Regions from separate parts of the Homo sapiens genome. Here region 2 is linked to region 1. Evidence: fine-mapped expression QTL. Tissue or cell type: T cells. Region 1 holds a variant in brackets; the other region holds the start of a gene. All regions are shown on one strand. Distances are from middle to middle.

Region 1 (6,055 bases):
TCAGACAGCATCTCAGCAGGTCTCCAAGCTCCAGGGAAGAACCCTTCCACCCCACCACAGTACTAGAGGGACTCAAGTCAGACATCAGAAAGGACTTCCCTGGCACGAAAGGAATTGAAATATGAGGAACAGCTTGTCCTCCCCTGAGGGTTTTGAAGAACAGAATGAGGCTGAGAAAACTCATGGAACAGGAAACTATTCCTTGGCTTCCAGAGACTTCACTGTCCACCTCATCAGCCATCTGTTCCAGACCCCACCAGCTGCTTGGATTTCCTCCACGGGGGCTGCACTGTCCTGGACACAGGTCAGCCCAGGACACAAACCCAGGCAGTTCCCTGGCAGGGAATCATCTGGCAGCAGCACCGAGCTGTGCTTGGACTGGAGCGACTGCGCATGCGCATGCAGCCACGGCCACACCTGTCAGGTCCTCTGCACATGCCTGTGGGGGTCAGAGTCCTTGTTTGTCTCCTGAAGCCCCCAGTCACTCATCCATGTGGTTCCCTCTCCTTCTCTGTTCTGATCCAGACAAGAAGGGCTTGGATGTGCTGTTCCCCATTAGTTCAGAAGTGAATGCAGTGGATAGAGGCACCAACCCACCCCAAGAGTCCAGAACCTGCCTAGCACCAGCTCTTCCTCAGTCCTGGAAGCCCTGGGCCAGCACGGTGACTCTTAGTGGGAGGCCCTTTGGGAAGCGGGCATCGGGGAAGGTAGGGCACTCAGAGGCAGAGAAATGTAGCTCCAGATACAGAAGCCCTGCATCTCAAGCCCCTGGCCTCGGTTTCTTCATCTGTAAAAGAGTTGTGACAGAAATCAGGTATAATATGGGGAGGGGGCTTCTTATCACCAAGTCTGGGCACAAAGCCAGGCGGAGCTAGCACTAACGCAGGCTCAGTCTCCCACTTCTGAGTGATCTTGGGCCAACGACTTCACATCTCAAGACTCAGTTCCCACATCTGTAAAATGGGGACCATAACGCCAGTCACTCCAACCCACGATACAGACAGTGGCTCTAAAGCAGCAGCGCACTGTGGAGGGCCAGTGTGAAAGTGCTCTGTCAGCAATGAAGTGCTGAACGAGTGCCAGTCCCCCACTCCGTCCCCTGCTTCCTGGCTTTGCAAGGGTCAGGCCCCTAATCCAGGGGAATAATCGCCATGGCGACGCTGCAATGACATCAGCAGGTTCCCAGGATCGGGAACTGCTTCTGCCTCCCCCTCCCTGTTGGGGAAGGATCATTCATTTCACTGCTAACATAGGAGGCCCACAGAGGGTAGGGGTGAGGGGTAGGGGCTGAGAAGGGAGGGAGCCTGGGATCAGCACCACCTTGCTGTGTGTTTCTAAGCAAGTCAGTTCCCCTCTCTGGGTCCCCTGAAGGGAGCTGGCTAGCTGATCTCTAAAATCCCTCCCATTTGGAGTCTGTGACCATTTTAAAGCACCTTCAGACCCTGACTATGGATAATCAAGACAGGGAGGCTCTTTGAAAGGTCTTTGGGTATGGAAGGGGTGGCAGAAGTGAAGGGTGGGGGGCCAGGGGTGTAGGGAGGGCCCAGCCCAGAGCCCCTCTTCAGGGCTCCCTTCTTGCCCTGGCAGGAGTGCTTGCCCCTGTTGTCTAGGATGGCTCACCAGGGTGCTGTGGGGGTCCCTGTGGAGGAAGGGACCTGCCCAAGGTCACAACCCAGTTGTCGCTCAGGCCAGGATGCAACTCAGCGCTTCGGTCAGAGGACCCCACTTCTGGGAGATGCCTGGGCTCCCAGAGGACCCCACTCCTGGGAGATACCTGGGCTCCCATTTTGGAAACTCTGCTGTCAGGCCCAGGACTGACTGACATCTGAGGCTCCTGACACCCAAACAACCACCATCCGTGAAACTCTAATTTTTCTGTCAGTTCTTAGTTGTTCTCCCTGGATCTATCTTGCTTCTCATCCCAGCAGACAGGAGGTGCAGATCAACATTTGTTGGATCATGAATGAATTGAATGCAGACACGTAATCTCCAAACAAAGCAGCATAATTGGGAAAACAACTGCCTTGATGACCCAATATAAGAAGAAGGATCATTACTTAAAAACAAAAATTATGCCAGGCACGGTGGCTCACGCCTGTAATCCCACCACTTTGGGAGGCAGAGGTGGGTGGATCACCTGAGGTCAGGAGTTCATGACCAGCCTAACATGCTGAAACCCCATCTCTACTAAAAAAAATACAAAAAAAGTTAGCCGGGCGTGGTGGGCGTAATCCCAGCTACTTGGGAGGCTGAGGCAGGAGAATTCCTTGAACCTGGGAGCCGGAGGTTGCAGTGAGCTGAGATGGTGACACTGTACTCCAGGCTGGGCGACAGAGTAAAACTCCGTCTAAAAAAAAAACACAAAAATTAGGCTGGACTTAAAAAACAAAATGGCTCATGTCTGTAATCCCAGCAGTCTAGGAGGCCAAGACAGGTGGATCACTCGAGCCCAGGAGTTCGAGACCAGCCTGGGAACATAGTACCCCATCTCTATTTAAAAAAAAAAAAAATTAATAAAAATCTCTAAAAAAATACAAAATTTATTGAGCGAAATACAATTTCCACTATTATGTGCCTACCATGTGTTGGGCCAACATACTTTGTAACCCATCCCCTTCTAACAAAAAAGAAACACTAGTTTTTAAAATTTAGGCAGGGCGCGGTGGCTGACACCTGTAATCCCAGCACTTTGGGAGGCTGAGGTGGGCAGATCACTTGAGGTCAGGAGTTTGAAACAAGCCTGGGCAACATGACGAAACCCTGTCTCTACTAAAAATACAAAAATTAGCCGGGCATGGTGATGCACGCCTGTAGTCCCAGCTATTCAGGAGGTGGAGGCGAGAAAATCGCTTGAGTCTGGGAAGTCAAGGCTGCAATGAGCCAAGATCACGCCACTGCATTCCAGCCTGGGAGACAGAGAGAGACCCTGTCTCAAAAAAATACAAATTTAAAAAAAAAATTAGACACACACAGATGGAGAGGAGAGCTGATGGAAAGGGCCGGGGCTGGAAGTCATGGTCAAAAGGTTGCTGTGTGTATTTCCCAGCTTCTTCATGTCCAAGTTCCATTTCCTCTCCTTTCCGGGAGAACAGTAGTAGCAAACACTGAATGCTGACTCCACGTCAGGAATCTTTAAATGCTTAACATATCCTCCTATCTCACACCACCCTCTGGAGAGAGGTAATCCACATTATTCAGACGAAGGCACTGTGCACAGAGGTTAAGCAACTTGCCCAAGGTCACACAGCTGGTGGCAGCAGATGCGAGATTCAATCTCAGGCCAGCTAGTTCGGGTAAGAGTGATACTCTACCACCCGTGCTGCTTACAAGATCCGAGGAGGA[T/C]AGAAACCCCCCTGTAATTTCCCATGACCCCATCAAGGTGAGTTGATGAAGGAAAAAATGGAAGAACAGTCTACTGGCACTTGGCACTTCTGCCTGGGCTCAGGGCCATACAGACACCTCCAGCTCAGTCCCACCCCAAAGCCACTGCCTCTGCTCAGCCTGGGGGTGGGATAGGAGCAGCAAGTGAGAAGGGGGGCTGGGGGTCCAGCTGCCAGCCCCCTGCCTCAGCCAGGCCTGGGCAGGACCACCGAGAGGGTCATTTCTGGACAGTTCTGTGGTTACCTCCTCCACAGGGGAGGCTCCAGGTGTCCCAGACACCCAAAGTGCCATTTTGGAGACCAATATAGAGATGGGAAAATAAATAAAGCTGAAATAGCCTGGGCAGCTTCCCAGAGACAGGGAAGGGCAAGGCAGGCCCAGAAGGGGCATGGAGAGAAGCCAGCTGACCCCGTGGGGTGAAGCTGGGTGAGCAGAAGAGGCTCCCCCTTCCCTTCCTGCTAGCCGCAGGCAGCTCTCTCCAGCTCTGCCCCCACGGCAGCCACAGGAACCAGAACCCGTCACTGCTCCAGCCTGGCCGGCTCAGCCCTTCCAAGCCTCAAAGCATCAGGCCCAGCCCCCAGCTTGAGGCAACTGGGTTTGCTGTCCTCATTTTACTGGTGAGGAAGCAAAGCTATGAGAGGAAAGACAGTCTGAGGCCAGTCTCAGACCACACAGCTGGTGGGCGGTGGGAAGGGAGACAGAACAGGCCTGCAAAAAGGGCAGTACCCTTTCCTCCCCTGCCTATCCTGCCCTCAGCCCCCAACCCCCGAGGACCCCCACCTCAGGGGAACAGAGCCGTGCCCTTAGTGCAAAGCCCTACCCTAATGTGGCACCCCTCAGAGCATACAAACAGGGTCGGTACACTCCTGCCCATGGACCCATCTCTAAGCTTCTTAAAGTGGGGCCAAAAGTCCTTATCAGAATCACGGGGGAGTCAAAATGCAGATTCTTGGGCCTCACCCAGAGCTGCCAAGCAGAAGTCCCTTGGGTGGGGCCTAGGAATCTGCATTCCAACAAGCCCATCCTACTTGCTGCTGACTGGTGCATCCTGCAGGGTGGGAGCACAGGGCTCGGTGCCTGTGCCATCAGCACTGTTCAGAGCAACGGGCTCCAGGGCCAGGTCATGGGACTTGATGTCTGCCCCTGTCCCTGGGCTCTGCACAAGCAGGGCAGCCTCTGTAAACCTCAGTTTCCCTATCTGTATGATGGGGATAATAAGAGCCCCTCTTTCATCAGGTGGCTGTAAGGATTAAACAAAGTCAGGCATACACGCATACATGCGTGCATGCTTGCACACACACACACACACATACACGCGTGCATGCGTGCACACGCACACACACACACATACACACACGGACACGCTCTGGCCCTCAGTGAGGCCCTAATGAAGAGTGACCGCCATTTTCATCTCCCAAGAGGCCCCCCCGGGAACCCAGCAGGCTATGACCCTGGGAAGCAGGGGGCACAGGCCAGGGACAGGAGCCCCCAAACCCAGAGCGTGGTGCTGGCTTCCCCTGTGGGGGGCAGAAGCAGCCCCTGCCAACAGCATGCCCTGCCCACTTGCTGCCCATCCTGGGCAGGGGGAACAACGTGGAGGTGCTTCCTCCTCAAACCCCACCCCTCGGGGATAGGGTGCCGGGGCAAAAAGAGCTGCAGCCACGCTTTTGTGGAACTGACAAAGGCTGAGGGGTTTGAATTTCTCCCCTGAGAAGGGTGTGTGTGTGTGTGTGTGTGTGTGTGTGTGTGTGTGTGTCTCCAAAGACCTGCTATCTGCTCCCAGCACCTCTTCTCCGAGGTCCTTCTGAGCCCCTCCACCTCTGGCCCCCATGGCCCTTCCACAGGGCAGGGAATTGAAGGCAGGAGTCAGGGCCTGGCTAGAATCTGTAAAATATGGCCAGGCAGGCTGTGGTGTTCCCTGCTTCCTAGTAACTTCAGCTTCTGTGCCGCAGGTGGGTGGGTGGCAGGTGTGAGCTGCTGCTCTCTTCCTCTGTGAGCCTCAGGCCCTACCAGGGCTGTGCAGCATCAAGGGCCCCAGACTTGGGAGTGACAAGACCAGGGCCCAAATCCTGGATCCGCATTCACTCACTCGGTTCCCCTATCTGTAAGACAGAGACGCTGGGTCTTTTACCTTCTCCCAGAACCCAGTCAAGGATAAACAGGGGAACTAACTAAAGGCACTTGCTGAACTACACAATTTCTTGCTTTTCCTTTTTTTAGAGACAGGGTCTCACCCCATCACCCAGGCTGGAGTGTAGTGGTGCGATCATGGCTCACTGCAGCCTCCAACTCCTCAGCTCAAGTGATACTCCCGCCTCAAACTCCCAAGTAGCTACGACCACAGGTGCACACCACCATCTCTGCTCGTTTTTTTTTTTAGGGACCAGGTATTGCTATGTTGCCCCAGCTGGTCTCGAACTCCTGGGCTCAAGTGATCCTCTTACCTTGGCCTCCCAGAGCACAGGGATTACAGGCGTGAGCCATGGCTCCCAGCCCTAAACTACAAAACTTCTCAACAGCATAAGGAACTATCATGTTTATTATTAAGGTAGAGACTGTTTCTTGGGGAGTGGATAGTCCCTGGGTTAGACAAACCTACATTCAAAGCTGCCAGTGTCTATTTCCTCTTCTCTGAAGTGAAGTGATGCTACAGCTGCACAGGGCTGGGTGAGGA
Region 2 (6,055 bases), 31 kb before region 1:
CTTTTTGCTACATACCACGATGCAGTATCATACTTGTTAATATTCCTTAAACAGTTTAGGCAAATTATCACAGACATAATATATATTTGGAGTAAATAAATATGGCCATTTTCTCATCAAAATCTGGCTGTTGGTGAAAAAAAAAGAGTTTTGCAGTTAAATTTTTGTTATAAAGTGTCATGTTGGGAAGAATATTCAGAAAAGGGGGACTACCAGTGAACTATTAAGAGTTCGTTCCATGGGAATTCTGTTCTCGATGTAGTTTCCAAAGAGATAATGCGACCTTGGCCTAACACTTTCATTTGACAGAATAAACAGAGGACCTAAAGTTTATGTATTTATTTATTTTTATTTTATTTTTTATTTTTGTGGAGACGGGGGTCTCGCTATATTGCCTGGGCTGGTCTGGAATTCTTGGCCTCAAGCTATCCTCCTGCTTCTACTTCCCTAAATGCTGGGATTATAGGCATGCGCCATAGCACCTGGCCTAGCCCTAAAGTTTAAATGACTTATGAAAGGTCAGGTCATATAATTTGTTGCCAAAACAAAGCTTCCAGAATAGTGTTTTTTCTTGTCCATAATTTTTATGTTTTTATTATTATTTTTTTTTGAGATGGGGTCTTGCTGTGTCACCTAGGCTGGAGTGCAGAGGTGTGATCTCGGCTCACTGCAACCTCTGCCTCCCAGGTTCAAGCGATTCTCCTGCCTCAGCCTCCTGAGTAGCTGGGATTACAGGCACCTGCCACCACACCAGCTAATTTTTGTATTTTTAGTAGAGACAGGGTTTCACCACGTTGGTCAGACTGGTCTCAAACTCCCGACCTCAAGTGATCCTCCTGCCTGAGCCTCCCAAAGTGCTGGGATTCCAGGCGTGAGCCACCGTGCCCGGCCTTGTCCATAATTTTTAAACACAACTTTTCCATTTCAGTTGTGACATATAATGCCTCAATTTTTGTTTTAAAACATGGAAATTGGACACAATGTTATTACTAAAAACTAATCTTTCTCCTTGTTTATTTATTTATTTATTTTATTTTATTTGAGACGGAATCTCGCTATGTCTCCCAGGCTGGAGTGCAGTGACATGATGTCGGCTCACTACAACCTCTGCCTCCCGGGTTCAAGCAATTCTTCGGCCTCAGCCTCCCGGGTAGCTGGGACTACAGGCGCGCACTACTGTGCCTGACTAATTTTTGTATTTTTAGTAGAGACGGGGTTTCACCGTGTTGGCCAGGCTGGTCTCCAACTCCTGACCTCAGGTGATCCATCCGCCTCGGCCTCCCAGAGTGCTGGGATTACAGGCATGAGCCACCACTCCTGACTCTCCTTGTTTACTTTTAAGCAAGAAAGGAAAATTAAATGTAGAACAATTATGATAGACTTGTAAAAGGAATAAACACCCCAGATTTGCAGGCCAATTCTACTCTGAATCCCAAAATACATAGTTTCTTCAACTCTAATGGGTCAGAGAACTATGTGGAAAGTTTTTTCCAGAAAAGATCTTTGATTAAAACACACACACACACACACACGCACACACACACACACACACACACTCATTTTGGGGTAAGAGATTTTTCCTAAATAAGTATAGCCATCTTGTTTCTATCATTTATAATTCAATCAGGTGCAAAGAGAGGACTATATAACCATTTCTCCCTTTAAATGAGAAACTGGGATACAAGTGGTTTGAGGTGGGGAAGAAATGATACATTTTAAAAACTCAAATGACAAGTTCTTCCTGGCTGGAGAGTGAGACAAGAGAAACCACAAAACCCCAGACTGTGCAATCTGTAAAGACAGTGATAAAGTGACTACTTCATAGATGAAGATGGACAACTTGAACTTCCCCTTGAGTTTCACAAGGGAGTCCTGTGTGTGAGAAGGAAGGAACATATTTGAGTGTAATGTGCAGTTGCATTTAGATCTAAGGAAACTTAAAATGAATTTAAGTTTCCTTAATTCAAAATGAATTTTTGAGCAGTTCTCCACGGTAACTTTAATAAGTCTCCATTTCAACTTTCTGTTCTCAATCCCATCTACAGCTCAAACATATGCAGTATCTGCCAGCCCTGTCCATGAATTCCTGAAGTCCCAGCCAAGTGCCTCTCAGCTCAAAAAGCCCCTTGCTTGCCAGGGGTCAGCCATGTCTGGAAGGCTCTGAAAGAGGTCTGCTGGGCAGTAGGACTGCTTCTGTGGATGAGAGGCCTCTTGTTGGACTGGAGAGACCAGGAGCTGTAAGAAACCCAGAAATAAAAAGTCTCAGATGGGGACAACTGCAAAGTACCAGGAGTTCCTCCCTCCTCTCCACCATATCCCACAGTTGGACATCTCCCCGAAAACCCCACCCCAAGTAAAATTTATTTGCCGTCTCACCCTCAAATAAGAATGAGTCAATCATTAAGTAATGCAATTATACAAGCATAGTTGTAAACAACTATATTGCAAGTATGCTGACATGCAAAGATGTGTTTTACCTTTAATTACCAGAAGAAAATAGACAACTTGAGTTTGAGCACCTAACTTGAAGAAGAAATTAGGAAATAATAGTCCCTCCCCACCACATCCATCATTCCCAACCCGTTCTGCCTAAAAATCGTTTACATTGTGGATTTTATTTGTAATTTTTAAAGTCTTATTTTAAATTAGGTCCCAAAGAAAGAAGCTGGCATTTCTTATTCTTTTCAGAGTGGTCTAAGAAAAAAAATAGGAAAGCAAACTCTTTCTTTTTTTCTTTTCTTTTTTTTTTGGAATCAATACCCGAGATAACAGCAGAAGCAAAAATCCACCGGTGCGTCAGCAAGCAGGGCACTCGGCCATTCATCTCCATCCTTCCTTCTGAGCTGTTCTCCAGCAGGCTCCGGCCGCAGCTCCAGGCCACTAGAGCAGATAGATAATGTAGGACAGAATGACCAGGCCTATGATGGCAAAGAACATCAGGATGAAAATATCCAGCATTGTGGATTCCTAGGCCGACCAAGCCCCTGGATTCTGGTGAACCGTGAGCTGTGAGCACGGAGGTTGCAGTCGGTGGAGAGAAATGGCTCCCCTTCACTCCACAGCTCAGCCCTGGTTCTTTCCCCTCCCCCTCCCAGGGGCCTGAGACTGAAGGATGCTGCAGCTCCACCAGCAGCTTCCTGCCCCCCCACCAACCACAGCCAACCAATCACAAAGCCTGGGGGTGGATAGCCAAGGAGATGCCAGATTTAGACCCACAGAACCGCAGAATCAAAGGGGCTCAATTTCTCCCCAGGAACCCAATCCCACCCCTTTGTATCTAAATGGAGCCTGCATGCTCTGGATGTAGGAGGAGATAGGATCCTACCCAGCTCCCCCAAGAGTGAATCCTCCTGACTGCCTTCTTCGCGTTTCCTCTCACACACCTCGGGCAGATTATCTCAGAAAAATCATGGTTGGGTATTGGGTGGGCCATTGGCAACTTCTAAAGGTCACATTATGGGGAGACACAGACAAAAGTTTCGTGTGGATCTCAGTGGGCTTCCCTGAGGGATGAAGCTAACATTTATACATTTCCTACACTGGGCCAGATATCGTACATGTGGTGCAATTTCAACCTCCCTATGAGTCTTTCATAGATGGGGCTCAGAGATGGTCAGAAACTTACCCTAATGGTTCATAGCTTAGATGTGTCAGAGACCAGCCGGGCGCAGTGGCTCATGCCTATAATCCCAGCACTTTGGGAGGCCGAGGCAGGTGGATCACAAGGTCAGGAGTTCAAGACCAGCCTGGCCAAGATGGTGAAACCCTGTCTCTACTAAAAATACAAAAGTTAGCCAGGCTTGGTGGTGCATGCCTGTAATCCCAGCTACTTGGGAGGCTGAGGCAGAGAATTGCTTGAACCCGGGAGGCAGAGCTGAGATCGCGCCACTGCACCCCAGCCTGGGCTACAGAGCAAGATTCTGTCTCAAAAAAAAAATAAAAATAAAAATTAGCCGGGCGTGGTGGCAGGTGCCTGTTATCCCAGCTATTCAAGAGGCTGAGGCTAAAGAATTGCTTGAACCCGGCAGGCAGAGGTCGCAGTGAGCTGAGACCGTGCCATTGCACTCCAGCCTGGGTGACAGAGCGAGACTCCGTCTCAAAAATAAATAAATTAATAAATAAAATAAAAAGTAAAAGGCTGGGTGTGGTGGCTCATGCCTGTAATCCCAACACTTTGGGAGGCTGAGGTAGGTGAATCACCTGAGGTCAGGAGTTCAAGACCAGCCTGACCAACATGGAGAAACTCCAGCTCTACTAAAAATACAAAATTAGCTGGGCATGGTGGCACATGCCTGTAATCCCAGCTACTCAGGAGGCTGAGGCAGGAGAATCGCTTGAACCTGGGAGGTGGAGGTTGCAGTGAGCTGAGATTGTGCCATTGCACTCCAGCCTGGGCAACAAGAGTGAAACTCCGTCTCAAAATAATTAATTAATTAATTAAAAATGTCAGAGACCAGGATTCAAAACTAGGCATGCTGACACCAAAGTCCATATTCTTCCTCTTGCGCCACACTGCTCCCCCTGTTGGTCCGGAAGGCCCCTACACCCCACGTGCACTGCTCAGCTTGCAGTGGACTGCTTTCACATCGATCCACCTACAGGACGAGCACCAGAGACCCCTCCTCCACCCACTCCTTCGTCTCTTTGCAGTCATTACCCACTGTTTTGTTTTCCTTCTTTCTTTTTTTATAGAGACGGGGTCTTGCCATTTTGCCCAGGCTGGTCTCAAACTCCTGGACTCAAGCGATCCTCCCACCTCAGCCTCCCAAAGTGCTGGGATTGCAGGTGTGAACCACCGCACCCGGCCTAGTTTTGTTTTCTTTGGTATCCTCTTCCAAAAGCTCAGCATAGTGTTGTACACAGAGAGGACACTGAAGAATTCCCCAGGGGTATCCCTGAAATTTAAAAAATTCAAGTGGTTTCTTCTGAGGGGGAAAAGAGAATTATTTTATTCTTTTTATTTATTTATTTATTTATTTATTTATTTATTTATTTATTTATTCTTAGACGGAGTCTTGCTCTGTCACCCAGGCTGGAGTGCAGTGGCACGATCTCAGCTCAGTGCAAGCTCTGCCTCCCGGGTTCACGCCATTCTCCTGCCTCAGCCTCCCGAGTAGCTGGGACTACAGGCACCCGCCACCGCGCCCAGCTTATTTTTTGTATTTTTAGTATAGACGGGGTTTCACTGTGTTAGCCAGGATTTTTGTGCCTTTTTATAAGCCTCAATTATTTTCTATTAAATTAAATCATTCCCTAGGACGTCTCTGAGGCCTAGTCTCCTTGGCCCCCACCCCAAATAATATTTTTTTTAAAGGCCTGGGGTTAAGATATATTGGTAACCCCCTCATAATGCAAGACCTCAGGAACTTAGGCCACTGCCAGAAGGAAATCCAGAAACTCCTCCCATTGGCCCATTTCCAGGAGGCAGAGCTTTCTGTGAGCAGGGAGTGGAGACTTGGCAGCAATGTCCCCCAAAGCACTGTTCCATCAAATAGATCTGAAGGTGAATGAAGCCTCCCGGGGAGTGGGGCAGGCCGACATGAGGCAAGCTTTGCCAACTAATTCCCTTCTATTGGGAAAGTATTGGGCTGCCTGCACCCCTGGAGGGGAGCAGGTGTCAGTGCTGTCTCTAATTATACCACCCAGGGCAGCCTTGGATGCTCCCCACATTGCCCCAGCTCAGCTGACTCTGGCCATGTCATTCTCCAGATTACAAATGCTCAGCTCAGGAGAGCCCTCCTCCTCTCCACCCTGCTGTGATTCTGAGGCTGGAGAATTCCTTAGTTCTGAGCCCCAAGAGAGAAATGCCCCTCAAGCAGCTGGACCTGAGGCTGATTGGCAGCACTGAGCAGGGCCAGATTCCCCTCTCTACCACTGTCCTCTTCCCAAGCCCAATGAGCAAGAGGGGAGGCCGCCTGGCCTTCTGGCCAGTCACAGACCCTGGGCACCTGGAGCAAAACATGGAGCCCAGGAGACACACATCTAAGAGCTGCCACAGACACAGGCACGCGGCCTGCCATGGCCGGGTGGCACAGCACCAGACTGTGAGCATCAC

Evidence for each region. PIP is the estimated chance that this variant, and not a neighbour inherited with it, causes the effect.
Region 2: LASP1NB starts here. The variant in region 1 is fine-mapped to the expression of LASP1NB in T cells (TOPMed, PIP 0.97).

What each region holds. Positions count from the first base shown.
Region 1 is chr17:38,891,634-38,897,688 of GRCh38, reverse strand. The region is part of intron 3 of LASP1 (LIM and SH3 protein 1); the gene reads right to left. Among named protein-coding and RNA genes, the nearest start is that of MIR6779, 20 kb to the left of the region's middle. RefSeq lists enhancers at 564-1,085, 1,086-1,607, 1,608-2,129, 4,216-4,789. The variant T/C (reference allele first, on the strand shown) is at 3,343.
Region 2 is chr17:38,922,597-38,928,651 of GRCh38, reverse strand. It overlaps LASP1NB (LASP1 neighbor), which reads right to left and starts at 3,038. Exons shown (of 2, transcript NM_001414697.1): 1 at 2,761-3,038; 2 at 1-2,235. The coding sequence starts at 2,958. The coding sequence ends at 2,881. RefSeq lists an enhancer at 6,043-6,055.